7 linked regions of the Homo sapiens genome follow. The protein of the gene in region 7 purifies or fractionates together with the protein of the main gene of each other region. This does not show direct contact. Each region holds a gene or a part of one and is shown on either strand. Other genes may lie near its edges.

Region 1 (4,803 bases), on a different chromosome or scaffold from region 7:
GGACCCCCCAAGACTCCTGAGTGGGCGTGCGACCTGGGCATCGTCGAAGCAGCCCCATGGTGGTTGGGGGATGAGGAGAGAAGTATGGCAGACAGGCCCCACTTGGGAGTGGTGAACACAGACTTAGGCCCGACTGTACTCTTGACCGATATATGGTGGGGAGAGATGGGGAGGAAGGGAAAAATAGCAATAAGGACTAGCTAGTTCTGCCTCAATGGGTCTCATCACAGAAAGGGCACAACTCCGCTGTCCCCATGATTCGGTCTCTAAGTGGCCCGGGCATTAATGAGGAGCTAGGTCAGACAAGATGGAGGCGGAAGTGGGGGGATGGATTCAGCTTTATCACCAGGCCTCACCCTCAGCTGCCTCGCTTTACTCTTTACTCTCTGTAAAATGGAAGCCGATGGCGGGGGTGGGGATGGGGAGGAGGAGAAGTTCTCAGGTACTTGATCTCCCCTACTAGAGCCCCATCTCTTGCCTTTCTGCTCTGTCTGTGACAGTTCCATTACCACTCCCACTCCCTCCCTCCCGGGGCCCAAAGAAAGACCGGCGCAAAACCATCTGCAGGCGCTTCCAGCGCTTTATAGTTCTTTCCGGGACAGACGGACAGACAGACAGTGCGGCCCGCTCTGTCGGCCCGCATCATTGGCACCTTGGACACGGCCCCAGGCCCAACTCAGTCCCTGGTACCCTACCGGGAGGATTCCGGTCCCGCCCCAGCTCAGCACCTCGGACAGTTCCCGGCCCAGCCTACCCCCCTCCCCCCTCCCTCCGCAAACAACCAAATAAATTAAAAGGGGCAGTGGGGAGGAGCAACAAAAAAGCTAAGGATAAGGAAGCGGGATGTCCCTCCTCCAAGGTAAGAAGTTTTCTTTTCCTCCCACCTGTCCACTGAGGCGCCGCGGCCGGGGTGGTCTCCCAGGTTGATTTTGCCTCCAAACCTCAGCCTCCTGAAAGAAGCCGGCAGCCCCTTCCCCCACACCCCCCAGCTCCCAGCATGCAACACGTTGGAAAAGGTGGGGAGAGGCGGTGGGGGTGGGGCGAGGGACCATCCTGGTGGCTGTCTGGATACCTGGGACTGCAGTTTCTCCTGGCACCTCAGTCGATCCAAATTAAAAACTAATATTCCCTTTGATCAGGGGAGAGGGGTGTGGTGACTCAGTCAGGAATAAAAAAATGCAAGCTGACACAAGTGGAGGAAGAAGGCAGACAGGAGGGAAGATGGTGACACATGACAGGAGCAACAAGAAGGGCAGATGGGGACACAGGTGCAGGAGGAGAAACAGGGGTCTACGGGGTACAGTCAGGCAAGGGGTAAGATGGAGATGCAGACACACAAACCCAAGGAACGGAAAATGGAAAGGCAGGGAGAGGGAGGAAGAAAGAGAGGAACAGGAGAGAGAGGGAGAGAGAGAGAGAGGAATGCAGACAGGAGGAAAAATGAAGACACAAAAAGGAGGCAAGGAAATGGATAAAACCGAGGGGGAATGGGCTGAAGGGAAGGGGGAGACCCCGGCAGAAATGGAGAAATGGGGGCGCAGACAGACGGGAAGAGTGAGGTTGGAGTGCCTTTCCCGCGCTCATCTTCCGTCCCCACTCCACGCCCAGCAAATCCAAACACCGCGGCCTCTGGTGTCCCGGTCTCCACTTTCCCCTGAGGGGCATGGGCGTCTCCTCCTCCGCCCAGCCGGGGCGCTGAGCGGCGGTAACAGCGGCGGTGGCTTTGTGGTCCCGGGGGGTCCGAGTGTGTGTCAGGGGCTGGGGCGGGGGATGGGCGCGGCCCCTGGGTATCCCTAGCGGTCCAGGTTCATAGTCCAGTGCTTGGTTCCGGCCGCGCAGCTGTCCCTGGCGGCCGAGGAGGCGGCGGGCGCGCCCCCGCTCGGTGGGCCCCCGCCGCTGGCGGCGGCCTCGCCCTCGTTCTTGAGGTCTTGAAAGACCTGCGTGAAGAAGTGGGGGTCGGCGTTGAGCCGCAGCATCTGCGGGCTGAGCCGCTGGATGAGGCGCAGGCAGCGCTGCCAGAAGCGCTCCTTGTCGGGCTCCACGAGGAAGGGCTTGAGTGGGTAGGAGATCTCGTTGCCCATGTAGGAGTAGGCGAGGTAGAGGCAGGTGAGGAAGGCGGCCTGCAGCTCGGCGGCCGACGCCAGCTCGTCCCCACGCAGCGACTCGCGGCACAGCAGGTACACGAACACCAGGTTTGCAGGCGTAATGAAGGCCTGGTCTTGCCAGCCCTGCAGCAGCAGCGAGCGGTCCACACCGCGGAACCAGCCCACCAGCTCGCCCGGGCTCAGCTCCTTGAGGCGATAGCAGCGTCGGCACACGAAGTCGCCCAGACAGCGCAGCAGCTCGCCGGTGGACGCCTGCACGATGACCCGCCGCGGCGAGCCGCCAGGCACCGGCGGCGCCACCTGCGGGGCTGGGGGAGGCGGCGGCGGAGGCTTTCCCCCGCCCGAGCCCGGCGGCTGAGCGGCCGCGCTGCCCCCCGACGGTGGCTCGCAGGTGGCGGCAGCCGCGGGCACGGTGGGCACTGGCACCGCCAGGGGCTTGGCGGTGCCGCCGCCGTCGGGGGGATCCCGGCCCTTGCGGAGAAGGTTCTCGCGGTTGCGTTGCTGGACCAGGGGGTCGGGGCCCGTGGATGCCGGCTTGGGTGTCACCTTCTTGCTGCCTTTCTTCTTCTTGGCGGACGCGGCCACCAGGCGCTTCCAGGTGAGCGCCGAGATGAGCACGGACGGCCGCTTGAGTCGGCTCTCGCCTTTGCCGCCCTTGCCCACTGGCGGCGCCCCGTAGCCCCCCAGCGCCTCGTCCCCCGCGGGCGGCGCCTTCTTCTTCTCCTCGGGCAGCCCGCCGGGCCTCCGGCCCTTGGCCGAGGAGGCAGGCGAAAGAGACAGCACTGTGCCCATCCTGCAGAGCGGGGCCGGCGCCCAGGCCCCAGCGGGAGCCGCGGGCGGCGCCGCTGCTACTGCAGCCCCGGGGGACCCGGCGGTGGGGGGCCTAGCCCCGGCCCGGGCGCGCGGACTGGCGGGGGAAGGTGGCTGCTAGGCGGCTCCGCTGCTCTAATCCTGAGCTGCGCCAGCTGCAGCGTCAGCCCCACCCCTTGGGCCCCTTTTTTCGTCGCGCCGTGCCCCGCCTCACGCGGCCAATCCGCTCCCGAGTTGCACTCCTGATGGGCAGCTCCAATGACCAATAGACTCTCGCACTTCAATTTCAAGTCCCGCCCCAATCCCCACCCTCCGCCCTGAGTCTTTTCCCTTCCCCCGAGCGGAGGAAGGGGAAGGCGGTGGTCGTCGTTCGAGTGGCCTCCTCAGGGTCAGAGTTGAGAAGGGGTGGTGGCTGCTCCTGCCTCCTCCGGATCCTAGGGCCTGGACCAGCTTGTTCTGATGCACTGGGTCGCGGTAGCAGATAAACCATGGGAACAGCTCTCCTTCCCTCTGCCTTTGAATTTGTGTGGGGGGCCAGTGTGAGCAGTGAGTGCCCTCACCGGATGCCCAGGTCCCAGATGGGTCGCGTTGCACTGGCTCCTCCAATGTGACTGTCAGGTCTGTTTCCTCTTCGCGACCCCACCTCGCCCCCCACCCCCCAGGTCGCTAGGGGGGCTGCAGCAGGCACATTTCTGCCCTGCCTGTTTGGGAGTCCTGGCAGAGCCTTCTTGCAGGTCACAACCCGCCTTCTTGGGGGTTCCAGCTTGAGGGGGAGAGGGGGAGCAGCAAGGTCTCAAATATGCCCCTGAGGCTTCTGCTTGCCGTCCTGATTCTCTGCAACTGAGCCTGTGGGGCAGACCCTTGGCTCTGGTCCCTGGGCAGCTCCTCTCGGTTGGTTGTCCCCACTAACACACACAGATCTCATACTTGGGTGGATGATGGATAAGGTTGGTCCCTGGGGAAACGCTAGAAATTGGATCACTTGGTCTACCCAGTCTTGGATAGTGAACGGAGCCTCCTGTGTGGACGGAAGCCCAAGAGGGTTGGACCAACCTCCAGCCCAGCCCTGGGTCCAGGTTGAGGTGGGTTTCATCATTAAATGCTTCCTGCAGGTAAGGTTCCAGCTGTCCCCACTCCCAGGAGCAAGCTGTTAGGCTGGGTCCTGTCCACTTCTCTCTGGGTCTGTCTGTTACCTCCTGAGTACCCATCAGCCCTTTGCCCTGGATTTTGGACTCCCCAGGCCTTACCTGCAGGTCTTGAGCACAGCTAGTTCTGGACCTATTCTATCTGCCTTGTTAGATCATGTCCACCCTTCTTGGAGCCTGCTCTCTGTGGCTCCCCCAGCACAAGAGCCTTCAGGCTTCTTAAGTAAGTGGACCTTGTAGGTGCATATGGGTTCCATGTGGAGCCAAACCCCTGCCTATGTATTTCAGTAAATTCTAAGGATTGCCCTTGGAGTCACCTCCATGCTCCTCACAGACCGCAAACATAGCTCCAAGGATCCACTGCTGTCAGGGTTGGTTTGTGCATATATGTGTGTGTGTGTGTCACTGCAGATAGGCTGTTCTAGAATCCACTTGGGCTGCAGTTCCAGCTACCAGAGGTACAGAATTTCCCAGCCATTCCACAGCCCCTGGTCACTCACACCCTCCTGGAGGCCTGTGGTCTGCCTGTCTCCATTCCCCTCCTCTTTACCACTGTGCACATGCAGCCTTGTACCTTCTCCCTAACTCAGCACCCAATATGCACTTTTTCAACAGGGTATCTCTGCTCCCTAGGATCTGATCTTTATTTTCTTGCAGCCCAAGCTGACCTTCCCAAACTCATTCTCCTCATAGTTCTTGAAAGTGTTCCCTCTTTTCAGCTCCTGTAATTGGCCCCACTTCCT
Region 2 (4,221 bases), on a different chromosome or scaffold from region 7:
CCATGTCCTCTGTATGCCAAGCAAACGTGGTTTTCCACATGCCAAAGTACAAGTAGGGTGTATTGACGCCTTCTATGACAACCCCACATTCCTTTTCCAGCAGGTCCTGAATTGTTCCCAGGTGCCCAAGATTCCATTGTTTAGTGTTTTCATCAAACAAGGAGCCACTGATGTCAGCACCATAAATCGGTGAATTATAGATGCGGTTCTTCCAGTATTTTCGCTCCAAATCTTCGAAATTCTGGTGTGGTGGAGTCTGATATTTTTTACTGTTTGCCAAATGGCGATACTCCCCCACAGTCATGGCTTTCTTTTTTTTATGGTATTGAGTAAACACCCCTGCCCGCCCAGAGGCCACCTGCTGGAGGGGAGTGGCTATTAAGATTTCACTGATATTATCATAGGTCTCTCTGGCTTTCCATTCTTTGGGTGGAATTATCTTAGCCAAGCCAGCTCTGTGTGCACCTTGGGATTCCATGTAAGCAATATATTTATCAAAATCATTAAACTCTTCTTTGGTTGGATGAAATATCATTATGTTACAATTTGGATTCTGGGCACAGTTGGCCTTAGACTTCATAGTTTCCATTTAATAAGCAGTAAACTCTTAGTTTTTAGGTATGTTCTAGATAGTTGACAATGTAGGAAAATGCTACTTTAAAAAAAAATTTGACTGGTGTTATCTATGAGGTAGCAGGATCTACCAGCGTACTTTTTTTTTTGCAAATGAGATGATAATCTTTCTTGGGCTTGTTTATTCACTAGTGAGATTCCACTCTGGGCAGCAGCTTTGCCCAGGCATTGACGTTAGCTGATCCTGCAACTCTGTTATGTTTCGGTTGCTGCTGGGCTCTGTCTTCTTAAGTCTATTGAATTACTCAGACCTGGGGGTACGACCCAAATGTAGCAGAGAATGTCCTCAGTGTTTAGAACAAAATCTAAAAGAAAGAATACACAGAGATTAAAAATTGATATTTGGAAAAAATATTAGGCATCCAGAAATTAAATACCAGAATAGAATAATAATATTACAAAGAGAGGCTAAAATTTTATAAGATTGATAATTCAAGTGGAGGTGTGGATGTGGAACAGTGGGAATTTTCATACCCTACTACAGAGAATATGAAGCACTATAATCACTTTGGAAAACTATTTGGACAGTTTCTTCTAAAACTGAACATACATATGTTCTGTGATCCAACTGTTCCACATGCCTAGGAAATGTGTATGGTTGTGAGCTGAAAGTCACATCCAGTAATGTTCATAACAACATTGTTTCTGGTAGCCAAACACTTAAACAACCCAAATGTCCATCAGCAATAGAATGAATAAGTACACTGCAGTATATTCACACAACAGAATACCATATAGCAATGAAGATAAACCAAAGCCACATGAAAATGCAGTTTTATAAAGATCAATATTGAGTAACATTATCAAGACTCAGAAGAATACCTATTACACAATTGCATTTATATAAAGATGAAAAGGAGGCAAAGTAATCTATGTTTGAATTGCTTCTTGGCCTTTTGGCTAAGATCAAGTGTAGTAATCTATGTTTGAAGTCAGAGTAGTGGCTACCTTGGGAAAAGAGGGGTTGTTGTGTAGGGGGGCTTGAGGGGATCTCTTGAGTAAAGTTAATCTGTTCAGAACCTGGGTGCTGGTTTCATACCCATCAGAATAACTCATTGTGTTAACTCATCAAGGTATGATGATTTTCACAAATTTCTGTATGTTCATTTAAAAATAGGGTTTAGGAGGAAAAGCGTTAAAGACAACTAAGAGGCATATTTCATTGTATTAAAAGGAAAAGAAAGAACGACTGAAAATAAACTATACATTCAAGTGATAAAGGCAAATTAGAGTTAAGGGAAAGAAAGAGGAAAGGTACGGAACTAACAAAGAATAAAGATGATGTGTTTCCTTAACTCATACCGTGTGACTTTGCAGTATGTGTCCCCTATCCCTCGCACAACTGGTATCAGCCCTACATGGACCAATCTAGCATGACAGGAATTTTCCCCATAGAGAAGGGCCATTCAAAAGAGATGAAGAAAGCAGATAGTAAGGTTCCATCAGGGTTAGGATTTTTCCAGGCAAGTATACCTCAGTGAGAAAGGGATAAGGTTGTTGATGGGTTGAATGGAGAATGAACCATTATATCTATCCTGGATAAAAAAGGAAATAAGAACTTGAGGGAGGTTCGTGGGCTAGATTTCTCTATTTAGTCAAATAGTCCTGTTAGGACACTAGGAAAGGGAAGCTCAAAAAAGATTGGGATGCTCGAAACAGATTTTTTAAACTAGGGGCAGTTTTTAACTGAGTGCCTATTTTACTGATGTCTTGACATCTTCCTGAGTTTTGACTTTATGCTATTATTCAACTTCAAACTGTTTCTCCCCTCCCACATTCTCTCTCCCAAACTTTCCCTTCTTCGTCAGTTCTTAAGTTCCACTCCTTCCCAAGTAGATGAACTTGACTGTTCATCTTCCTTTACTGTCCCAACAAAACAGCACATCTTCTTTCATATCCTGTAGTTCTCTTGCCACTTATCACTTCTACCTTATATAATGTGAACAGTGTCACTTTTATTTAGCACTTCATTTAGACAGACCCCTTATTAAGCACTTTATAGTATCCTATTCAAAACTCACAACTAATCTATGAAGTTGGTACTATCATTATCCCAATTTTATGAAGGAAGAAACCAAGGTATAGAGAAATTTATAACTAACTCAATAGCTTGTGTTTTCAGTCTCTACAATTATGTCTATCCTTGACTTATCTTCCATATAAAAGTATTGAGAACATAATCTGTGTCTTGTTCACTATTGTGTTTTCCAAGAATATTGGTTTTCTTATATATTGTAGGCACCCAAAACATTTTTATTAATTAAATGAGTTGGCACACACTTCCCTCTGTCACCTATTGATTACACCCCATGTTTCTCACTGTTCTCCGTCCTCTCAGGAGAAAACACTGCTTTCTAGGGCTAATTTCTCCATTTGAACTCCTTAAATCAACATTTCCCACTTGGTCCAGGACTATGTTGAATTAAATAATCAGTTATTTTTCTCTTTATTAAATCATCAGTCATCAATCTCTTTCCTAATTTAAGCTACTGTCCTTACTCCCTCTCTCCCTCCTCTCAGGCTCCTCTCTCTCTCTCTCCCACCCAACCCCAGGTCCTGCCCCCACCTTTCTACTGACATTGTTCTCCATAAATCATCAAACTGCCTCCCAAATTCTGCTCCAGGGGTTACACTTCACTGATTCACAGAACCAGTGGTTCTGTGAACATCTGGTTCACAGAACATCACTGGTTCACAGAACACCTCCCCCTTCCTCCTAAAACTCCTACAACCTCCAGGGCACTGATACTTCTTTTAACACTGGTTCTTTTCTTTCTTCTGGGTTCTACCTCCTCTTCTACCACACACATGCAGACATCTCAAAGTTCAATTTTTATCCCTCTTAACTTTCTTTCTCTCTTAAAATTTCCTATTTATATTCAGGGTTTCTGTTAGTACCATGCTGTTTCCCTTTAAACATGTTATTTATTGTCATAACTTTCTCCAATAACTGACTCTCTCCTAAGCTTCTGCTCTCCTTCTCCAACTTAGATGGCCCAGTGAGCCCCTGAAAGTCAACTGGTTTAATACAAATTGATGATCTTTCTCCTGAAACTAAGTTACTCCTTTATATGTCTTTTATTTCTATCAAGGGCAATAATGTGTTATCGTAGTCACCACTGACTATTACATCTCCCTTTTCCCAGACATATGGTCAGTGCCTGTCAGAGGATCCAATGATAGTCTTCCATGAGGCCCCAAGGACATCTAGACACCCCAGGGTGTGTTCTCTTTATCTTCCTTATAGAAGAACCCAAGAATCCAGCTTGTCTTCCTCTCCTACTTAAAGCTGTCACTACTCAAGCGAGACACTGAGGATGTACAAGTGACAAGATTACCTGTATCATATGATAGTCTCCCAATCTCATCCCAATTTTTTAATCTTAAAAATTATTCTACAATGATTTTATTATAAATTCTTTATATTTTTGGAATATAAAATAAAATATTTCATTCTTTCTATTAGAAAACTTGCTCTAAAGAAAAGAAAAGAGAAAAGTGAGACAATTTAGAAGGATAATTAAATATCAGAAACTTAAATATCATGCTGAGGGTCTTTCCCTCAAGAAGTAACAAAATGCTGACTAT
Region 3 (4,221 bases), on a different chromosome or scaffold from region 7:
CAGCCTTTTTTTTTTTGAGATGGGGTCTCGCTCTGTTGCCCAGTCTGGAGTGCAGTGGCGCAATCTCGGCTCACTGCAAGCTCCGCCTCCCGGGTTCACGCAGTTCTCCTGCCTCAGCCTCACAAGTAGCTGGGACTACAGGCACCTGCCACCATGCCCGGCTAATTTTTTGTATTTTTAGTAGAGATGGGGTTTCACCATATCAGCCAGGATGGTCTCAATCTCCTGACCTTGTGATCCGCCCGCCTTGGCCTCCCAAAGTGCTGGGATTACAGGCGTGAGCACTGCGCCCGGCCAGGAGACAGCTCTTCAGGAAAAAAAAAAAAAAAAAAGTAATGCTGGAAACTGCTGAAAGTGATTATTAGAAATGCATGGTTTGGCCGGGCATGCATCTCTAGTCAGGAGTTCGAGACCAGCCTGGCCAACATGGTGAAACCCCATCTCTACTAAAAATACAAAAATATTAGCTGGGCGTGGTGGAGCGCACCTGTAATCTCAGCTACTAGGGAGGCTAAGGCAGGAGAATTTCTTGAACCCAGGAGGCAGAGGTTGCAGTGAGCCAAGATCGTGCCACTGAACTCCAACCTGGGCAACAGCCAGACTGTGTCTCAAAAAAAAAAGGAATGCATGGTTTATTACAGCCAGTTAAATGTCTTGAGGTAAAAAGTTATTGCTTATACATTTATATGTCAAGTGGAACTGCACTTAACTGCAGTGGGATTCAGGACGAGTTAGATGAGCAAGGAGATTTCCTACTACAATCCTGTGAGGCAGGCAGCGACCCGCCACAGGGCGCCAGCCTGCGTGTGTCCCACAGAGCAGGCACTCTGTGCAAGGACAGAAGTTCTGCTGTCCTAAGTGAGCAGCCTCCCCTGGATCTCCTGTAGCTGCAGCTGAAAGGTCTGTACCAGCTATAACAACTGTGTGATGAGATTCTCCCATAGAAAATGCCAAGATGGAAACAAGAAAAAAAGGCCAGCCCCAAAGGAAGGCTTTCTCAGCAACCTTGGCCCTAGGGTATATGAGAACAAGACAGGACAGAATCACTGCTCTCCACCATCTCTGCAGCTGGCAGTTACCAGTGTCAGAAAATTCTCTCTTCTGGCTGGGACCACCAGCCCCACACAGACCCACCTCCTAACGGCCCATGCTGGCAGGAGGGGCAGAGCCCCTGCCCCTCCACCCCCAACCATCCCTAGCAACTGGCTTTTGTCTCCTCACCACTCCCCACAGTCTTGCACCCTGACTCAGGTGTCGCTATAGGGCGCTATTTCCTGGTCCTTCCGGAATAAGGTCATTAGGAGGGACCGATCCCACCTTTTATTCAGGAGGCTGCTAGCACCAGTCCTCCCTGCGGCCTTGCCAAGAGGAGAGTGCTGAAAGGGTGCATCCTCTGTGCTCGGGCTGACTTCACCGTCACCTGGTTTCTTCTCCTTCAGGGAAAAGGGTTTCTTATTGGGGCCTGTGGACATAGGAGGCAGAAAAGAGTTTATGCAATCACAGATCACCTGGAACTGGATTTTTTCACTCTGTTTCTAAGAAAGTAATATTATTTTCATTGTCACAGGAGGTTAGAGAAGAGCCCAAGGAAATAACTGTGAGATGCAAATCCACTGAGAGCCAGCCTCCTCCACTGGCTGGGGAAAGGGCTCACGCTCAAAGGGTTTGGACCAAGAGCATGAGAAACTGAAAAGAGGGCCATGCACAATGGCTCATGCCTGTAATCCCAAGATCAGACTGGGCAACATAGCGAGATCTCATCTCTATAAAATAAATAAAAATAATTTTTTTAAAAAGTGAAAAGAATAATTGAAAACTCACTTATTTTCTTCCTGTGCCAAAAGATAGCCATGTCTTTATGCAAACTTTTCCCCTTCTTTCTAGCCAGGGCTGCAGATGCCTGGAAAACAGTCCACAACCGCCATGTGTGAGTATATCAGGAAACCAAAGGAAATGGGATTGAAAACTCAAATGCAGTAAGCACAACAGACCATTCAAAGGCACCAGGAGCTCCTGTCCTTTGCACGACAGTGATTTCTCCACCCACACGTCTGCTAACTGCATGGTCTCTGGCTGCGGCAGCAGCAGTATTCATCTCCCTTACCTGTCTCACAAGCATGTATTTGCTCTTTCCCCCTTTTTTTTTTTGAGACAGAGTCTCGCTCTGTCAGCCAGGCTGGAGTGCGGTGGTGAGATCTCAGCTTACTGCAATCTCCACCTTCAGGGTTCATGCATTCTCCTGCCTCAGCCTCCTGAGCAGCTGGGACTACAGGCGCCCGCCACCACATCCGGCTAATTTTTTGTATTTGTAGTAGAGACGGGGTTTCACCGTGTTAGCCAGGATGGTCTTGATCTCCTGACCTCAGGTGATCCGCCCACCTTGGCCTCCCAAAGTGCTGGGATTACAGGCGTGAGCCACCGCGCCCGGCCCCTTTTTTTTAATTAACAACTTTGCTTCATAGAACTCACAAACTTGGCCTTGTTGGCATTTGGTGAGATGATTCTCACCAGCTGATCACACATACAGAGACAGAAAGTTTGCGAAGTCACAATTAAGCACAAAAGGGAGCTGCAGAATAACACACATGGGATGCCACTTACCACAGAAAACACACACAAAACCAACCACGTTAGTCTCCGTGTAGATACACTCATAAAAATGTCTAAAAAAATACACATCACACTAGTTAACTGGACTGCTCCTGAGTAACAGGAGAGATGAGGATATTCAGTTTTGTCTGTATCAATGAATTGTTTATAAAGGCAGTCTATTTACATATTAGTTATGTCATAAAATATTTAAGGTTCAGCTGGGAAAATAAGCACATTGCAACAGGCAAAAAATAACTGTAAAAACAAAAGGGGGTTGGGCATGGTGGCTCATGCCCGTTATCCTAGCACTTTGGGAGGTGGAGGTGGGAGGATCACTTGTGCCCAGGAATTTAGGACCAGCCTGGGCCACATAGTGAAACTTCATCTCAAAAAAATAAATAAATAATAAAATAACAATAAAATAAATAGTAGTAATAAATAATAAAAACAAGGCCAGGCATGGTGGCTCACGCCTGTAATCCCAGCACTTTGGGAGGCCAAGGTGCGTGGAACACTGAGGTCAGGAGTTCGAGACCAGCCTGGCCAACGTGGTGAAACCCCCTCTCCACTAAAACTACAAAAATTAGCCAGGCATGGTGGTGCACACACAATCCCAGCTACTTGGGAGGCTGAGGGAGGAGAATCGCTTGAACTGGAAAGGTAAAGGTTGAAGTGAGCCAAGATTGCGCCACTACAATACAGGCTGGGAGACAGAGCAAGGCCCCGTCTCAAAAACAACAACAACAAAAATGAGAGCCGGTACAATGACTCAGGTCTGTAATCCCAACATTTTGGGAGGCTAAGGCAGGAGGACAGCTTGAGGACCGGAGTTCGAGACCTGCCTGAGCAACACAGTAAGACCCCATCTATACAAATGTAAAAATACAAACTTTTTTTAATTAAAAAAATTAAAACTAAAAACAAATTAGGATTACCATATGACCCAGCAATTCCAATCCTAAGAATATACCCCAAAAAACTGAAAGCAGGGACTCAAATAAGTCATATGCCAATGAACATTATTCACAATAGCCAAAAAGTAGAAACAACCCGCGTCTGCCAACAGACGAATCAACAAAACGTAGTCCATCCACTCAATGTAGTATCATTCACTTTATAAATTTATACTTTATAAATTCCTATAGAACGTAATTTTGTCTATGAGAATACTCAGAAAAAATAGTGACGATATAAAGCTATATAACATAAGCAGTCCACGTTCACTGCACCCTAGAAAGTATTATGCATACATTTAGGCTGGGCGCAGTGGCTCACGCCTGTAATCCCAGCACTTTGGGAGGCCGAGGCAGGCAGATCGTGAGGTCAGGAGATCGAGACCATCCTGGCTGACACAGTGAAAGCCCGTATCTACTAAAAATACAAAAAAATTAGCCGGGTGTGGTGGCGGGCGCCTGTAGTTCCAGCTACTCCGGAGGCTGAGGCAGGAGAATGGCGTGAACCCGGGAAGTGGAGCTTGCAGTGAGCCGAGATCATGCCACGGCACTCCAGCCTGGGTGACAGAGCAAGACTCCATCTCAAAAAAATAAATAAATAAATAAAAAGAAAGTATTATGCATACATTTAAAGTCAGGATACAAACCCAGTGCTTCAAAGCAGTTATCTCTAGAG
Region 4 (4,221 bases), on a different chromosome or scaffold from region 7:
TTCAGCTTCAGTCCTGACACGAGAGGCTGAGCTCTGGAGAAATGTCAGGGTCCACCATCCCACCCATCTTGCCCCCACCTCCTCGGCTGCGCACACGTGCTCAGAGCAAGCATTTCTCTCACCAACTCAGGGATCCCTGCACACCAGGGAGCACCCAGCCTACACCTGCAGCCTGGCACAGTTGGGGACCGTTTAGTTGGTGCCAGCTGGAGGTGTTTGGAGGGAACCATCCGGTGATCAGGATAGAGGCACAGCTGGCCGAGGGCAGGTGGGCGCCTGTGGGTGCAGGAAGATGTCACATCTGCAGGCATTGTTTGGGGACGTCATTGTGTAACCAGCCCTGCAGGGCTGCAGAGGCATCCCACAAGTCTGTGTGCTCTCTAGGCTGCGTTTATTGCCCCACTCTAGACCACAGGCCTGGGCATATTTGTGTCCCCATCCCCAACCCTGTCACCTGAAGCAGCCTGCGAGCCCCGACAGGAAGGGACAAGAAGAGGCGAAGATGACAAACATTCACAGACAGCCCACGGCTGTTCTTTTGCTCTGACAGTGTATCTTAAGCTCCCTTGAGCGCCTTACTGAACAGATAGATCAGCTTCTTTTCAATCTCTTGTTTGCTCTTATAAAGGAAATTAGGTCATGCTGGAAACTATGCCATGATGCCCCTATGCTCACTCACCTGATGAAGTGTGGGAGGCTACCCCCCAGCAAACAGAAATGGGCACACAATCTGAAGCCTCCTTATCACACTGGAGACTTCCAGAGCAACTTCAGTAAGGTCTGTGAGGGGGAACGCTCTGTTGTTTGACATGGGCTTGTGGCTTTCAGCTAGGGGCACGCACTTCTCCACCAGCTCTTTTTTTATTTTTATTTATTTTTTATTTTTTTTTTGAGATGGAGTTTCGCTCTTGTTGCCCAGCATGGAGTGCAATGGCGTGGTCTCGACTCACTGCAACCTCCGCCTCCCGGGTTCCAGCGATTCTCTTGCCTCAGCCTCCCCAGTAGCTGGGATTACAGGCACCTGCCACCAGGCCCAGCTAATTTTTGTACTTTTAGTAGAGTTGGGGTTTCACCATGTTGGCCAGGGTGGTCTCAAACTCCTCTTAGGTGATCCTCCCGCCTCGGCCTCCCAAAGTGCTGGGATTATAGGCATGAGCCACCGTGCCTGGGCAGCTCTTTCCCTAATAAGAACACTGGTTCTGAGGCCAAGTAAGAGGCTAAATTAAGAAAGCAAAGATTTATCATAAGTTTGAGGCCCACGAGGAAAAAAGCCTCCATTCATCATCCAGAAACACAAGGAAACATCATTTGCCCCTCAGTGGACAGGTGATGTTTCTTACATACCCTATGACATAGCTGCCCTGGTCCCTCCCAAGCCCAATGTTTCATTGGCCAAGCTTCCAATTTGCTTTACAAGGTGTGAGGACAGAGAAGCATCCAGCCCATTCTCCTGTGGCCCTGCTCCATTTAGAGCAGACACGAGTGGATAGCTCAGCTGGTCACTAGCTCCTGGGCTGCCCCCACTCACAGAACAAGAGTGTGCGTTTCTCCTGAGAACTTCCTACTAAAGAAAACAGCCAGCCCAGGCATGGATTACAGGCTCACACCTGTAATCCCAGCACTTTGGGAGGCCAAGGCAGGTGGATCACTTGAGGTCAGGAGTTCAAGACCAGCCTGGCCAACGTGCATTTTTCTCTATAAAAAATACAAAAAGTAGGTGTGGTGGCACACACCTGTACTCCCAGCATCTCAGGAGGCTGAGGTGGGAGGATCACTTGAGCCCAGGAGGCAGAGGTTGCAGTGAGCCAAGATCGTGCCACTGCACTCCAGCCTGGGTGACAGAGTGAGACCTTGTCTCAAACAAAACAGAAAAACAGTCCAACTAGGAAGCTTGCTTCTCCCGGAAGCCTTGCTGCATGGGCTGACCAGGCACAGTGCTGGGCCATTCCACTGGGCTGGGCCAGGCTGGGGAGGTACCTTGATTTGGGGATGGCAGCTGGCCTTGTCCTTGACTCAGGGGCTGCTTTTCTGTAGACCAAGTGCACTTCACGGATTTCTCCAGAACTGGTAGAGACAAAAGTGAGAGAGTGGGAGATGCATTTGAAGCATGTTGGCTTTATTATTTGCAAAACTGAAGTCTGGCCCAAAAGAAGGTTGATCTTCTTTTAGGAGGTCTGGAACAGGACGTGGTCTCTTCTGTGGTGGAATGTTTTTGTTTTGGCTGAATGGTTGCGTCTTAGTGATTTGACTGAGAGCAAAATCAGCTTCCATTTTATCCCCGCTAAGTCACACTTTTTCCATAGAAGGGGAGTTGTGGGAAGCATAGCTTTAAGGGAAGGCAAAGCACACCTTGCTCTGAAACTCTTTGGTCACAACCATGTAAAAACATGTCTGAGGAAAAATCCTAGGCAGAAATACAGCAAAAGTCCACTTAGCCAAGGAGGCCATGGGTAGTTCTTTTCCTCCTTTCTTGTGTTCTTATTTTTCCAGATTTTTATTTTTATTTTATTTTTATTTTATTTTTTTTTGAGACAAAGTTTCACGTTTGTTGCCCAGGCTAGAGTGCAGTGGTGTGATCTCGGCTCACTGCAACCTCCACCTCCCGGGTTCAAGCGATTCTCCTACCTCAGCCTCCTAAGTAGCTGGGATTACAGGCATGCGCCATCATGCCTGGCTAATTTTTTGTATTCAGTAGAGATGCGGTTTCACCAGGTTGGCCAGGCTAGTCTTGAACTCCTGACCTCAAGTGATCCACCCACCTTGGCCTCCCAAAGTGCTGGGATTATAGGCATGAGCTACCGCGCCCGGCCCCTTTTCTAGATTTTTTTTTTTTTTTTTTGAGACGGAATCGCACTGTGTCACCCAGGCTGGAGTGCAGTGGCGCAATCTCAGCTCACTGCAAGCTCCGCCTCCTGGGTTCACGCCATTCTCCTGCCTCAGCCTCCCGAGTAGCTGGGACTACAGGCGCCTGCCACCACGCCCGGCTAATTTTTTGTATTTTTAGTAGAGACGGGGTTTCCCTGTGTTAGCCAGGATGATCTTGATCTCCTGACCTCGTGATCCGCCACCTCTTGTCCTTCTAACAAGAAGAACTCATACCCATACTACGTAAAGATAGCTATCGCATACACTTTTATCACCAGCCTCCTTCCCACAACAATATTTATATGTATAAATCAAGAAGCTATTATTTCAAACTGATGCTGAACAACAATCCCAAAGTGCTGGGATTACAGGCGTGAGCCACCATGCCTGGCCCCCTTTTCCAGATTTTTAATAGTGAGCATATATTACTTTTATGACTGGAAAAAGTATTAACACATTCCTACTCTATGTAATTGAAGGAATTAGTCAAGTATTGTATCACCCTAATAGTACTTTCATGTACACACTCTATGTTGCTTATTTTTATGGATTTCATATACTTTGTCTCCACGCATAGGAAAATTGAGTTGGTGAGGCTTGCAAAACTCCCCAACCCACACTGTTTAGTTTTAGCAGACTTATCACATGAGTGTTTTCATTTAAAGAACAATAACCAGCCGGGCGCGGTGGCTCATGCCTGTAATCCCAGCACTTTGGGAGGCCGAGGCGGGCAGATCACAAGGTCAGGAGATCGAGCCCATCCTGGCTAACATGGTGAAACCCCGTCTCTACTAAAAATACAAAAAAATTAGCCAGGTGTGGTGGTGGGTGCCTGTAGTCCCAGTTACTTGGGAGGCTGAGACAGGAGAATGGCGTCAACCAGGGAGGCAGAGCTTGCAGTGAGCCGAGATCACGCCACTGCACTGTAGCCTGGGCAACAGAGCAAGACTCCGTCTCACCAAAAAAAAAAAAAAAGAACAATAACGATGACTCTTTAGGGTTCATTAAACAGTCTAAGAAATACAAATATTTAGCTCCCCTCAGCCATCACTGCCTCAGGCCCATTCATGATCATGAATCCAGATCCATGAGCTCTGTGGCAGCGTCTTTGAAGGTGGAGCTTCTCTGGATCATTTGAGGGACTCTATTTTCCTTGCAGGTGTGGGAGCCACTTCAGGAGCTTCTGCCAACTTCCCTGGCACCTCGGGCAGCAGCACCCTGTCTCCCTTCCAGCACGCCCACAAAGGTGAGGAGGGTGCTCAGGTATCGATCACCTGGAGTTAGGTGGTACTCGGATGAAAGCTCAGAAGAGGAGAGGAAATGATCATGAGTGATGATTATGGTGCGCTTCCCCAC
Region 5 (4,221 bases), on a different chromosome or scaffold from region 7:
ACATAGAATTCCCTCCTGCTCTTTCACCCTCAATAAATGCTATAAAGTGCATTCACAAAGAGCCATATTAAGATAAAGCTACTGCACAAAATACAGCACTCATATATACTGAAATGAGTAGTATCACACTGGAGTTTAATTGTGCACATTTTATATACCAGTATAGCAACATCCTTAGCCAGAAGTCTCAACAGAATTATCATGAACATAAACGTTTAAGGGTTATATACATATATCAATTTAAAGTATGAAAAGGTGCATTTGAACTTCATGGCAACATTTAAAAATGATATCCTTGTTAGCACATCACCTTGAATCTATGATGTATGATTCAGCAAATTAGGACAGAATCAAATTCTCAGCAAAAAGTACTTTGAGGCTGGGGATGGTGGCTCACGCCTGTAATCCCAGCACTTTGGGAGGCCAAGGCAGGCGGATTGCTTGAGCCCAGGAGTTTGAGACCAGCCTGGGCAATATGGCGAAACCCCATCTTTACAAAAAAGCACAAAAATTAGCTGAGCATGGTGGTGCCCACCTGTAGTCAAGCTATATCTGAGTCTCTTTAAGTCAACTGGGGTTGGTTGCTATAAGTACAGTAAAACCTGCCACTGTAGCTGAAATAATGTACCAGGTAGAATCACAGTCCATTATAGCATTCAGCTTTTTCATGCAGTTTGAATAATCAGCAAAGTATGTTGCTCTAGAAGGACCCACCCTCAATCAACTGGCCTAATCCTCTAAACAAGGAAAAAAGCCCTTCTTTTTCCAAGGTCACCTTTAAGAAATGAAAAGGTTCAGGTAAATGCATGACATTTAAGAAATTTAAGAAATGTCATTCAGTTGATAATGGGCTTCAGCCATGGCGTTCAACTAAACTTCAGATATAAAAAACACCATGGTGTTCAGCTAAACTTCAGATATAAAAAGCTTCACAGAGGAAGACAGCAGCCATGTCATTCTAACTTCTAGCGGACACATGAGAATAGCTGCCACTGTACCAGCATATTCCTCTGGTTCATTCTCCTGCATGTCCTCCAGGCACTGAGGCAGGTTGCAGATCCAACCACACACTTCCAACACCACTTTTATTTTTATTTTTTAAAACTGTGGTAAAATACAAGATTTACCGTGCTCACCATTTTCAAGTGTACAGTTCAGTAGTGTTAAGTACATTCACACTGTTGTACAACCATCATCACCGTCCATCTCCGGAACTCTTTTCATCTTGAAATCCCCATCATCTTTTTAAAATTCACTCTTTTGGGGGCATAATTTATGGTCAATAAAATGCATTTTTAAAATGTGCTATTAATGAGTGTTGACAAATTTATACACCCACATAACCATCACCTCAATCAAGATAGCGAACATTTCCATCAACCCAAAAAGTTCCCTTGTGCTCCCTCCTGCACAGTCCGTCAAACCAATGATTTGCTTTGGTTTCTGTCACTCTATATTTGTCTTTTCTAGAGTCTCACAGAAACATTTACTGTCTTAAAAAATATTGTTCAATAGTGATTCTGACCCACACCAACTCTTTTTTTTTTTTTTTTAAAGTCTCCCTCTGTCACCCAAGTTGGAGTGCATTGGCGTGATCATAGCTCTCTACAGCCTCTAACTCCTGGGCTTAAGCAGTCTTCTTTTCTCAGCTGGGACTACAGGCATGTGCCACTGCAGCTGGCTAATTTTTAAAAATTATTTTGTAGACATGGGGTCTTGCTGTGTTGCTGAAGCTGGTCTCAAACTCCTGGCCTCAAGTGATTCTCCCTTCTTGGCTTCCCAAAGCACTGGGATTACAGGCATGAGCCACCATGCCCAGCCCCACACTAACATTTTAGAATCACTTTTATAACCTCTCTTATTGCCTCCCTCATCTCATGTATGTTATTTTCCTTTCACTGTTCTACTTGTCCATTTTATAATTGCTTAGCTACATTCAAGAGTTAATAGGCATTGAGTCTAAACCCTCCAGTTCTTATTTTAGTTCCTTTATCTGGAAAAAAAAAGAAGCCAAACATATTCGCTTTTTTTCATTCTTAGTATTGGAGTCCAGATATGATACCAAGGAATTATTTCCAAAGCAGCATGTTTATGAAGTCGAATCACCCCAATGGGAGATAATGGAAAGCCTTACAAGTTATGGTCTTGAGTGTTCAAGTTTCCAAGATGATTGGGAATGCAGAAACCAGTTTGACAGACAACAGGGAAATCCAGACAGACATTTCCATCAGATGATCATCAGACATGAAGAAATGCCCACTTTTGACCAGCATGCATCCCTTACTTTTTATCAGAAAATTCATACTAGAGAAAAACCTTTTGGGTATAATAAATGTAGAAAAGACTTCTGGCAAAAGGAACTCCTTATTAATCATCAAGGAATTTATACTAATGAGAAACCCTATAAATGTAAGGAATGTGGGAAGGCCTTTAAATATGGCTCACGACTAATTCAACATGAGAATATTCATTCTGGTAAGAAACCATATGAATGTAAGGAATGTGGAAAGGCCTTCAATTCTGGTTCAAATTTTATACAACATCAGAGAGTTCATACTGGTGAGAAACCGTATGAATGTAAAGATTGTGAGAAGGCCTTTAGTCGAAGCTCACAGTTGATTGAACATCAGCGAACTCACACAGGCGAGAAACCCTATCAGTGTAAGGAATGTGGCAAGGCCTTCAATCGGATCTCACATCTTAAAGTACATTATAGAATTCATACTGGTGAAAAACCCTATGCATGCAAGGAATGTGGGAAAACCTTTAGTCATCGTTCTCAGTTGATTCAACATCAGACTGTTCATACTGGCAGGAAACTCTATGAATGTAAGGAATGTGGGAAGGCTTTTAATCAAGGCTCAACTCTTATACGACATCAGAGAATTCATACCGGTGAGAAACCCTATGAGTGCAAAGTATGTGGAAAGGCCTTTAGAGTGAGCTCACAACTCAAGCAACATCAGAGAATTCACACTGGAGAGAAACCCTACCAATGTAAGGTATGTGGTAGGGCCTTCAAACGGGTCTCACATCTTACTGTACATTACAGAATTCATACAGGTGAAAAGCCATATGAATGTAAGGAATGTGGGAAGGCTTTTAGTCATTGCTCACAATTGATTCATCATCAGGTTATTCACACTGAGAAAAAGCCCTATGAATATAAGGAATGTGAGAAGACCTTGAGTCATGATTCAACTACCGTTCAACCTCAGAGAATGCATAATAGAGAAACACATGTGAATATAATAAATGTAGAAAAGCCTTCCATCAGCAGTTACCCCTTACTAATCATCAGAGAATTTATGTTGGCAAGCAACCATATGAATGGAAGTAATGGGGAAAGCCCATTAGCCTAGGCTAATTGTGACTGTGACTTACTTCTCCCTCTTGGAGAAAGACTTGAAGAATGTAATGCCAGTGACAATGCCTTCATTCAGAGGTAAGCCTTTATCCTAAGTCTGAAAATTCATATCAAAGAAAATTTTATGGATGTAAATTGTTCAGATCATAATTGTCAAAAATGCTGGGAAAGGTTGGGAGAAATTTTATTTCTAACACATTCCAGAACCACATTTTCTAACCACAGTGTAGTAATTTTATCAAGAGCAAAAGTTATAGTTTTCTTACAAGTTAAAAAAACAGCCAGATTATCATTTGCTTAACAAAGAAATCATGCAATTACCATAAATGGTAATGAAAAGAATGAATTGAGAGTTTAACATGCCAAGAGATGTGAAATGTGGCCAAAGAGATGTGAGGGTAAGGGGAAAGCCAAAGCTACACTGGAGGAATTTTTATAGCCTTTGAATGCATGCATATACATGAAAATCTGAAAGATAAACTCATATGCACTAAACATGCTATTCAAGTCTACCAAACATCCAGGCAGTGAAAGAAGAAAGTAACAGAAAATGATGAAATAAAGAGACCATCTTACAATAATCTCAGTTTTTGTTTCTTTCTGATCCAGAAATAATCTAAATTTAGGAGAATATTTCTTAATTTCCACATTGTTACATTGTTTTATGTGACTGGCACAGACAACCATTGGTTGTCATCCCAGCAGCCATACCCAATTCCCCTTGTTATTGGCAGCATCTGTGTCTTGCCTTGGACTCTGAGAATATCAGATGCTAATTTTCCAGTCTCCTGTGCAGCACAGTATGGCCAGTATCTCCCAGTGTTGCTCAGTGGAATCTGCCGGGGCTTCTGGGA
Region 6 (4,221 bases), on a different chromosome or scaffold from region 7:
AAAGTTTGGAGTAAATTATACAAAAGAAGAAAGGGTTCATTTTTAGCTTAAGTAATGGAAATTTGTGGAGATAGCTCAGAAGCTACTGTTTATTGAGCATTTACTGAACAGACTTAATGCTAGTTGCTGTTTACAGCATTTTCTTAGCTTCACAGCAATATGTAAGTACCTTAATAATGAGGACAGTGAGGCTCAAATATGTTAAGTTACTTGCCTGGGCTATGTGGCTAGCATGTAACAGCCCCAATTTGAATCCAAATCTGTCTGGTGCCAAAGCCTGTGTGTTTCTACTGCATCATGTTGCTCCCCAATAAACTGGTAACCTGAGTTTAATGTTACAGAGAATAAGACTTTTCTAAGACAAAGATTTATGGATTGGGAGTAGGTGGGTGAAGAAGGCCTTTCAAATAAAGAGAATGATGTGAGCAGAAGTGTGGAGGTGGGAAAGTTCATTGTGTACTTGGAGAAAAGTTAGTGGACCAGATTACCTGGAATATACTGTTCATTTTTGGGAATTAGAGATGAGGTTTGAATTTTAAGTGGGGGCAGGATTGTGGAGCATGTTTAAGTGCTGCTTTTAGAAGTTTGACATTTGGGGAAAAAAAGTTCGACGTTTGGGAGGTAATGAGAAGTTACCAAGGTCTAATAGAGTAGTGTGCAGAATGATTTGATGTGGAAAGCTGACTTTCAATGTAGTATAAATACTGGGCAAGGGCAGTGGTAATGGAATTAGAGTGAAGGCTCTGCAGGACCTCAATGTCGTAGGTGGGTGGCGAGGAGGAGGGGTTTTTGGAGCAGGTTTGGAGGAGATGGAAGGTGAAGATTACACTTTTGTTTTTGAGACAGAGTCTAGCTTTGTTGCCAGGCTGGAGTGCGGTGGCGTGATCTTGGCTCACTGCAACCTCCGCCTCCTGGGTTCAAGTGATTGTCCTGCTTCATCTTCCCGAATAGCTGGGACTACAGGTGCTCACCACCACGCCCAGCTAACTTTTGTATTTTTAGTAGAGACGGGGTTTCACCATGTTGACCAGGATGGTCTCGATCTCTTGACCTCGTGATCCGCCTGCCTCAGCCTCCCAAAGTGCTGGGATTACAGGTGTGAGCCACTGCGCCCAGCTGAAGATTACACTTTTTAAGTGTCGGAGATGTTGACGGTGGTACTCTTACTAGAAATACGGGCAAGGAGGTACGTAATGAGATCAGTTTTGGATTTGTTGACTTTTTTGTATACTTGCCAAACGCTGGAAATGTCCAAAGGCTTTTGGAAATGTGGATTTGTGGTTAAGGGGAGAGGTCAGGACTAGGCATATATTAAACATGGGTTTAGTGAATAATACAAATAGGTGTACTGGTTGAATCTGTGTAAGAAGATGAAAGTGCCAAGGGAGAATGTAGAGGGGAAAGAAAAAAAAAACTTCTGTTTTAAATGGCATCTGTTTAAAACAGAAGGAAATATGCTAAGTGATTTATTTTATGCAGTGGGTAAAGAATTTGATAGTATGTCCACTGCTTCTTCACACTGTAGGTTCACACGGAGTAGAAAGAATCTGATCATTAAAAATCCAATTGGGAAATACAGTTTTCTTGCCCTGGGTAGCAAGAATACTATGCTATCTTTACCCTGTTTCAGGGAGGACAAACTACTTCAGACTCATTTCATCCAGAGTGTCAGATTTGGTTACTTAAAAGCTATGTTAGCTTGTTTCTTTTGGACATTTGTTTGGCAAGTGGTATGTGAGGAGTTGGAAGCAAATCTCTGATACAGTATTTCACTTATTTATGTGTATGACATCGATTTTGGTTTCAAAATCAAGAACCTCTGAATATTCAAAGATAATATTTACATCTCATTAAGGCTGTTAATATTGCTTTTTATAGAAAATGGCATTTGATTACATATTTTTCTTCCAACTCTATTTTATAAGTTCTTTTGATTAACATGATTAGTTTTGGCTTATAATGTTTGGATTATATTAGAGGGATAGAATAAGATACTTTTATCCATTATATGATAACACATATGAAAGTTACATATTTTATTTTGGAAACTGTTTAAGAACTGTAAATTTATAGAATTTTGTGTGGTTTTCTGTTTAGGTATTTAAATAGGGGGAACTTGAGTATTAATGTGTAAAAGATTATAATAGTTTGCAGAATGAGGCTTAGAGTTGTAACTTTTTGAGGGCAAGTTTATTATTTTTAGACTGAGTTACCATGGAAGTGTTTATTTCCTTCTTGAGAATTAATACATTCCTTTTGTTTTTCAGGAATATGTTTTCCACTATATCACAGGCACTTGGGAATGTCGAAAGAGTCCTGTGTCAGTGTTGTTGGAGGCAGGGGGTTTTGTGTGTGCTTTGTCTGGGCTGTTTGGCTTAGTTTCAGTAAGCCTGGTATTAATGAGGCAAAGGTCAGGAGTTCCATTTAGCTTCAGTCTAAATGATGGCCAGGGAGTACACCCCTCACTCCCTCCAGCTGTCTTGGAAATTCCTTGGTTGTCATTGGTCACAAAGGTGACTAGATGAGGGTGGATTGTTATACCACTGGAAGAATATTAGAGGAAACTTAGGATAATGGCTGGGACCTCTGACTCTAGAATTAGATAGACCCGTGTCAAAATCCTTGGTATTCAACCTTGGGAGAGTCCCTAAACTTCTCTAAGCTTACATTTCCTCATTATTGAATAGGTTAATATTTGGTTTGGGCATTACGTATCATCACTTTCCTTTTCTCAGTGGGAGCTAGCCACTTAAGCTTGTGGCTCCCGAAGTGCTGGACTGTGGAGTAGTGTCAGTTCATGACAGAGTTTTCCTTTGAGTGAAAGGAGAATGTAGTTGGCTTCTTTAAAGCTAAATCTATTGATATGTTTTTCTAAAATTATCTTTTGCCATTTTCGATGGGCGCTTAGTTCTTTTATGAAATAGTGGTGATGGGTAATCGGTAGTTTTTGTTTTTGTTTTTTAAATGTCCTTGGCAGAATAAAAGTTGGCAGCCCTATGCTGGTCACCCTCTCCTTCCTCGTGCCCCTTTTTAAAGATTATGGTTCTGTGAAATCCGAAAATCTTGGCTTAAACAGAATCTGAGGGATTGGAGGAGACTATTCATCCACATATTTATGCATATTAAAGAAGGTTTGGGGTACATTCTGCCCTTGTGTTAGCCTACAGAGGACGTATTGTGATTCTCGCCACCATTGAATTTAATTTTGTCAAGATTCACAGTCAATACTTATAACATATTTCAAGGAGCAGTTCAGACTGTTTTCAGTTGAGTTCACACAAGTAGCTCTAAATTACTTGTTTAAGACTGTGTTTCTCAACCAGAGCCTCTGGAGAAAACTGTTGAACTGTGGGCGCTGCCTGGGGGTGCTGCTTTAAGTTATTACTCTGTTGATTAGCCAACAAGATAAATAACTCGCCTTTGACATAGTGAAGCAGCAGAAATTGGCTTTCCATTTCACTTCTTCTGCAGGAAAGATAGAGCAAGAAAAGCCTTTTTATTAATACAGCAAGTAAACCTTGTACAAATATCAGTATTCAAAATGCTTTCTAGAGAAAGAATAGTGCAGCACTGTGCGTAATGGGTTATGTAAGTGGAGTCACAGAAGTCCTCCTGGGGACACAAACCAATTATGAACATAAGTGCTTATTGAAATTGCATCAGTTGTCTAGATGAGGAGCTTATTGACTCCCTGGTTCACTTGGGTGGGCAGGCGGCTGTGGGGGAGGGACGGGGGGGGGTGTGGGGGTGGGGAACTTAAGGTGCAAACCTAGCCTAGGTGACTGTTAAATTAAGGCTTAACATTTGTTTCTTTTGAGTGTTTTTGGTTGCGTAATTTTAAAAGTTGGGAATGCTATAGAAATATTTAAATTCTATTAGAATGTCCAAGGCAAAATGTTCAGGTTAAGTAGAAATAGCTTGGACCCTCTGTTAATTTTAAAGAAAACTGTGGGTTTGCTGCTTTAGATATTAAAATGATATGGGTTTATAGAGTTATGTTGTGTATCATTGTTGCTGGTAAATAAAAAATGTTTAATTCATTTATTTTAACAGTGCTTAAATTTTTCTCTTAAAGTACTCCCAATGGCAGAAATGTGGATGAATAGTACCCTCAGAAGTCTAGGAATGCAGCCCAAAGTGTGCCTGCTATAAATTGAAGTTTTTGATGCCTGTAGGGTTTTATATTTTAAAATTTATATAAATGTTGCATTTTGCTATCTT
Region 7 (4,221 bases):
TGCCACTGCACTGTAGCCTGGGTGACAGAGCAAGACCCTGTCTCTAAAAAAAGAAGGAAAAGCACCTGCTATCTTGTTATTTTAACATGACTATTCAAATGTGATTCTTTTCTGTTTCTTTCTTTGTGTTACATTTTTAATTTTTAATTTTTGTGGGTATGTAGTAGGTATATATATTTATAGGGTACATGAGATACTTTGATACAGGCATGCAATGCGTAATAATCACATCATGGTAAATGGGGTATCCATCCCCTCAAGCATTTATCTTTTGTCTTATAAACAATCTAGTTATACTCTTTTAGTTATTTTTAAATGTACAATTATTATTTACTATAGTCACTCTGTTCTGCTACCAGATAGGTCTCATTAATTCAATTTTTTTGTACGCATTAGCCATCCCCATCTCCCCACAAGCCCTATACTACCCTTCCAAGCCTCTGGTAACCATCCAGTACTTTGCCTCTATGAGTTCAATTGTTTTAATTTTTAGCTGTCACAAATAAGTGATAACATGCAATGTTTGTCTTTTTCTGCCTGGCTTATTTCATTTAACATAATGACCTCCAGTTCCATCCATGTTGTTGCATATTACAGGATCTCATTCTTTTTTATGGCCGAATAGTACTCCGTTGTGTATATGTACCATGTTTTCTTTATTTATTCATCTGTTGATGGACACTTAGATTGCTTCCAAATCTTGGCTATTGTGAACAGTGCTGCAACAAACATGGGAATGCAGATATCTCTTTGATATACTGATTTCCCTTCTTTCAGGTATATACCCAGCAGTGGGGTTGCTGGATCATATGGTAGCTCAATTTTTAGTTTAGTTTTTTTTTTTTTGAAAAATTTTTTTTTTTGAGACGGAGTCTTGCTCTGTTGCCCAGGCTGGAGTGCAGGGGCACAATCTCAGCTCACTGCAAGCTCCGCCTCCCAGGTTCATGCCATTCTTCTGCCTCAGCCTCCCAAGTAGCTGGGACTGCAGGTGCCCGCCACCATGCCCAGCTAATTTTTTGCATTTTTAGTAGAGACGGGGTTTCACCGTGTTAGCCAGGATGGTCTTGATCTCCTGAGCTCGTGATCCGCCCACCTCGGCCTCCCAAAGTGCTGGGATTACAGGCGTGAGCCAGTGTGCCTGGCCTTTTTTTTTTTTTTTTTTTTTTTTTTGAGATGGAGTTTTGCTCTTGTTGCCCAGCCTGGAGTGCAGTGGCATGATCTTGGCTCACTGCAACCTCTGCCTCCCAAGTTCTAGTAATTCTCCTGCCTCAGCCTCCCGAGTAGCTGGGATTACAGGCACAAACCACCACACCCAGTTAATTTTGGTATTTTTAGTAGAGATGGGGTTTCGCCATGTTGGCCAGGCTGGTCTCGAACTCCTAGCCTCAGGTGATCCTCCCACCTCGACGTCCCAAAGTGCTGAGATTACAGGCATGAGCCACCGCACCTGACCAATTTTTAGTTTTTTGAGGAACCTCCAAACTGTTCTCGATAGTGATTGCACTATTATAATTTACATTCCCACTAACAGCATACAGGGGTTCCACAACCTCGCCAGCATTTGTTATTGCCTGTCTTTTGGATAAAAGCCATTTTAGCTGGTGTGAGATGATATCTCGTAGTTTTGATTTGCATTTCTCTGATGACCAGTGACGTTGAATGCCTTTCCATATGCCTGTTTACCATTCGTATGTCTTCTTTTGAGAAATGTCTGTTCGTATCTTTTGCCCATCTTTTGATGGAATTATTAGTTTTTTTCCTATAGAGTTGTTTGCGTTCTTTGTATATTCTGGTTATTAATCCCTTGTCAGATGGGTAGTTTACAAATATTTTCTCCCATTTGTGGGCTGTCTCTTCACTTTGTTGATCGTTTACTTTGCTATGCAGAAGCTTTTTAACTTCATGTCTGTTTATCTTATAATGTATGTAGTTCAGATTATGCTGTATAGAAAACTTTAAAAAAATTTATCACCTTCAGTTCTTTTCTTAAAACGTTTTTATTGAGCTATGATTAATATACAATAAACTACACATACTTAAAGTGTACAATTTGATAAGTGTTAACATATATATAAAACCCGTGAAACCATCACTACCATCAAGGTAATGGACATGTCCCTCACTTCCAAAAGTCTATAGAAGTTTGCATCCTATTTTTATCATCAAATGTTATCCCGTGAGTATTTTTCCCCATTATCAATTTATCTTACTGAGCATCTTTAGGGCCAGGGGGTCTGCTGTGGCCCATACCAGTGCCCTAGTTTGGAAGGACTTTTGCTTTTGTAAACAATGCTGTGAGGATGCCCAGGGCTGGAGTCGTGTGGCTAGAGTGTTTGAACTGCAGTCACTTTTAAGACTGTTGCCAGATTACTTCTTCAAAGGATCAAGTAGGTTCTCCCTCCCTGCAGTGAGGCACGGTTGTCCCTGTCTCTCACCCCCTCATCAGCCTTAGCTGTTCTGTCTTTTACGACTTCTGCCCTTTAGGCAGGTCCAAAAGGCAGCAACGTTACCTGTTCTATTTAAGCAACTGTGGTGGTCAGAAAGTGCCTGCTTGCAGAGAGTTCCTGCCCACCCCCACCCCATACTCAGTCCTGGCCTGTTCTCAGAGCCATCTGATCCCTACCTCATGTGATACCAGAGATGGTCCTACTGCTGCTGCTGCTGCTGTGGCCGCCAGGAGAGACAGCAGGTGGTAGGGCTGTCAGTCAGTGGTTGTGGGTATTCAGGGCCCTGAACTGGGACCTAGGAGATCCAAAAAGGTCAGGGAAGTTGCTGGTCTTGGCCAAATGGGCAGTGCTGTAGGCACTCAGTGGTGGCTGTCTCAGGCCGACTGCCCACAGATATGTGCAGTCTGCTCTCAGGATCAGGCACACGACTTTTGGGGTCAGGTACAAGAGTAGCTGCTCCAAGTGTGGGCTTGTTAAGAACTGTTTTCTTTTGAGACAGGGTCTCGCTATGTCACAGTCATAGCTCACTGCAACCTCAAAGTCCCAGGCTCAAGGAATCCTCCCACCTCAGCCTCCCACATAGCTGGGACCACAAGCACATGCCACAGCACCCAGCTAATTTTTTTTTTTTAAGAGACAGGGTCTTACTGTGTCACCCAGGCTGGTCTCAAACCCCTGGGCTCAAGTGATTCTCCCACCTCAGCCTCCCAAAGTGCTGAGACTACAGGTGTGAGCCACCATGCTTGGCCTGTAACTGCTTTTGAGGAAGGCTCCTTTATCCTTGGGCCCACTGGGGTATTCAGAGATGGGGTTGGCTTTAGCCTTCTATGCTACTAGCTGAGCACCCCGACTGCATAGCCACCACCTGGCCTTGGCCTGGGACAGAGCAGCAGTGGGGAGGGGCCTTTGTGCATCTCTGCTCCTACAGCTCAGGGCTGGGAGTGGCTTACACTGGGGAATATGTGATCCCTGAGCCTGGGTAGTGGCTACTTTGTCAGGGTGCTTGTCCAACCTTTGTCCCCTTCCAGAGCTTTCTGTCTGTGTGGATGAGTGGGGTAAGAACTGGCATTAAAGGTGGAAGAGCAGGTGGTGGCACCCTGTGGGCAGCCAGGTGTGTAATGGGCCTCTGTTCTGCCTGAGTCCTGCTGGTTACCACCACCTCACTCCCTGCTATTCTTAGCAGCTGAGCTCAGGACAGCACTGACTGGCATTAGACAGTACCCTTTTCCCTCTAGGCCTGTGTGTTGAGAGGATGAGGGGGCCACCCAGACAGATTTTTCCCAACTCCTTTGGCTCGGGTAGGTGGGTCATGTGCTCCGCTGACCATTTATGGACTGGCGGGTACAGGACAGAGCCATCCAGCAGCTCAGAGGGCTGAGCCTTTCATACTTCCAGAACATGTCCCATTCAACACAGACTCCCCTGGCTGGGTGGTGGCGAGACTGGAATCTGCCCCAAAGGAACCACAGGCCTAGGGGCAAGGGTTGGACTAGGTGGCCTTGGTACTGACCACTTTGGGAACCAGCATTTCTCCCAGCCTTCTTCTTCCAGACATCATCAGCACAGCCACCTTTGAGAGCGGACAGGTTATGTGCTATGCAGACAGCACTTGTTATTCCCTGGGCTCTTCACAGCATCTCTAACATAAGTCACTATTCTGTTTTTACAGATGAAGGAATTAAGACTTAGAGAGGGCTACTTTTTTTTTTTTTTTTTGAGACAGAGTCTTGCTCTGTCACCCAGACTAGAGTGCAGTGGCACGATCATGGCTCAC

The links.
Region 1: the proteins of RNF123 (region 7) and CDK5R2 purify together in Homo sapiens (affinity purification with mass spectrometry, with the first as the bait; one large-scale study listed by BioGRID). This does not show direct contact.
Region 2: the proteins of RNF123 (region 7) and KDM4D purify together in Homo sapiens (affinity purification with mass spectrometry, with the first as the bait; one large-scale study listed by BioGRID). This does not show direct contact.
Region 3: the proteins of RNF123 (region 7) and MCM3AP purify together in Homo sapiens (affinity purification with mass spectrometry, with the first as the bait; one large-scale study listed by BioGRID). This does not show direct contact.
Region 4: the proteins of RNF123 (region 7) and EDAR purify together in Homo sapiens (affinity purification with mass spectrometry, with the first as the bait; one large-scale study listed by BioGRID). This does not show direct contact.
Region 5: the proteins of RNF123 (region 7) and ZNF582 purify together in Homo sapiens (affinity purification with mass spectrometry, with the first as the bait; one large-scale study listed by BioGRID). This does not show direct contact.
Region 6: the proteins of RNF123 (region 7) and FRS2 purify together in Homo sapiens (affinity purification with mass spectrometry, with the first as the bait; one large-scale study listed by BioGRID). This does not show direct contact.

The regions. Positions count from the first base shown.
Region 1 is NC_000002.12:218,957,915-218,962,717, reverse strand, and holds CDK5R2 (cyclin-dependent kinase 5 activator 2), read right to left. Parts: upstream 3,053-4,803; 5' UTR 2,898-3,052; coding exon 1,794-2,897; 3' UTR 563-1,793; downstream 1-562. UniProt on the Homo sapiens protein: Activator of CDK5/TPKII.
Region 2 is NC_000011.10:94,993,741-94,997,961, reverse strand, and holds part of KDM4D (lysine-specific demethylase 4D), read right to left. Parts: intron 939-4,221; 5' UTR 590-938; coding exon 1-589. UniProt on the Homo sapiens protein: Histone demethylase that specifically demethylates 'Lys-9' of histone H3, thereby playing a central role in histone code. Does not demethylate histone H3 'Lys-4', H3 'Lys-27', H3 'Lys-36' nor H4 'Lys-20'.
Region 3 is NC_000021.9:46,278,676-46,282,896, forward strand, and holds part of MCM3AP (germinal-center associated nuclear protein), read right to left. Parts: intron 1,901-4,221; coding exon 1,822-1,900; intron 1,463-1,821; coding exon 1,318-1,462; intron 1-1,317.
Region 4 is NC_000002.12:108,912,568-108,916,788, reverse strand, and holds part of EDAR (tumor necrosis factor receptor superfamily member EDAR precursor), read left to right. Parts: intron 1-4,024; coding exon 4,025-4,111; intron 4,112-4,221. UniProt on the Homo sapiens protein: Receptor for EDA isoform A1, but not for EDA isoform A2. Mediates the activation of NF-kappa-B and JNK. May promote caspase-independent cell death.
Region 5 is NC_000019.10:56,383,004-56,387,224, reverse strand, and holds part of ZNF582 (zinc finger protein 582), read left to right. Parts: intron 1-2,040; coding exon 2,041-3,362; 3' UTR 3,363-4,221. UniProt on the Homo sapiens protein: May be involved in transcriptional regulation.
Region 6 is NC_000012.12:69,473,023-69,477,243, forward strand, and holds part of FRS2 (fibroblast growth factor receptor substrate 2), read left to right. Parts: exon of another isoform or gene 1-1,186; intron 1,187-4,221. UniProt on the Homo sapiens protein: Adapter protein that links activated FGR and NGF receptors to downstream signaling pathways.
Region 7 is NC_000003.12:49,692,204-49,696,424, forward strand, and holds part of RNF123 (E3 ubiquitin-protein ligase RNF123), read left to right. Parts: intron 1-4,221. UniProt on the Homo sapiens protein: Catalytic subunit of the KPC complex that acts as E3 ubiquitin-protein ligase. Promotes the ubiquitination and proteasome-mediated degradation of CDKN1B which is the cyclin-dependent kinase inhibitor at the G0-G1 transition of the cell cycle.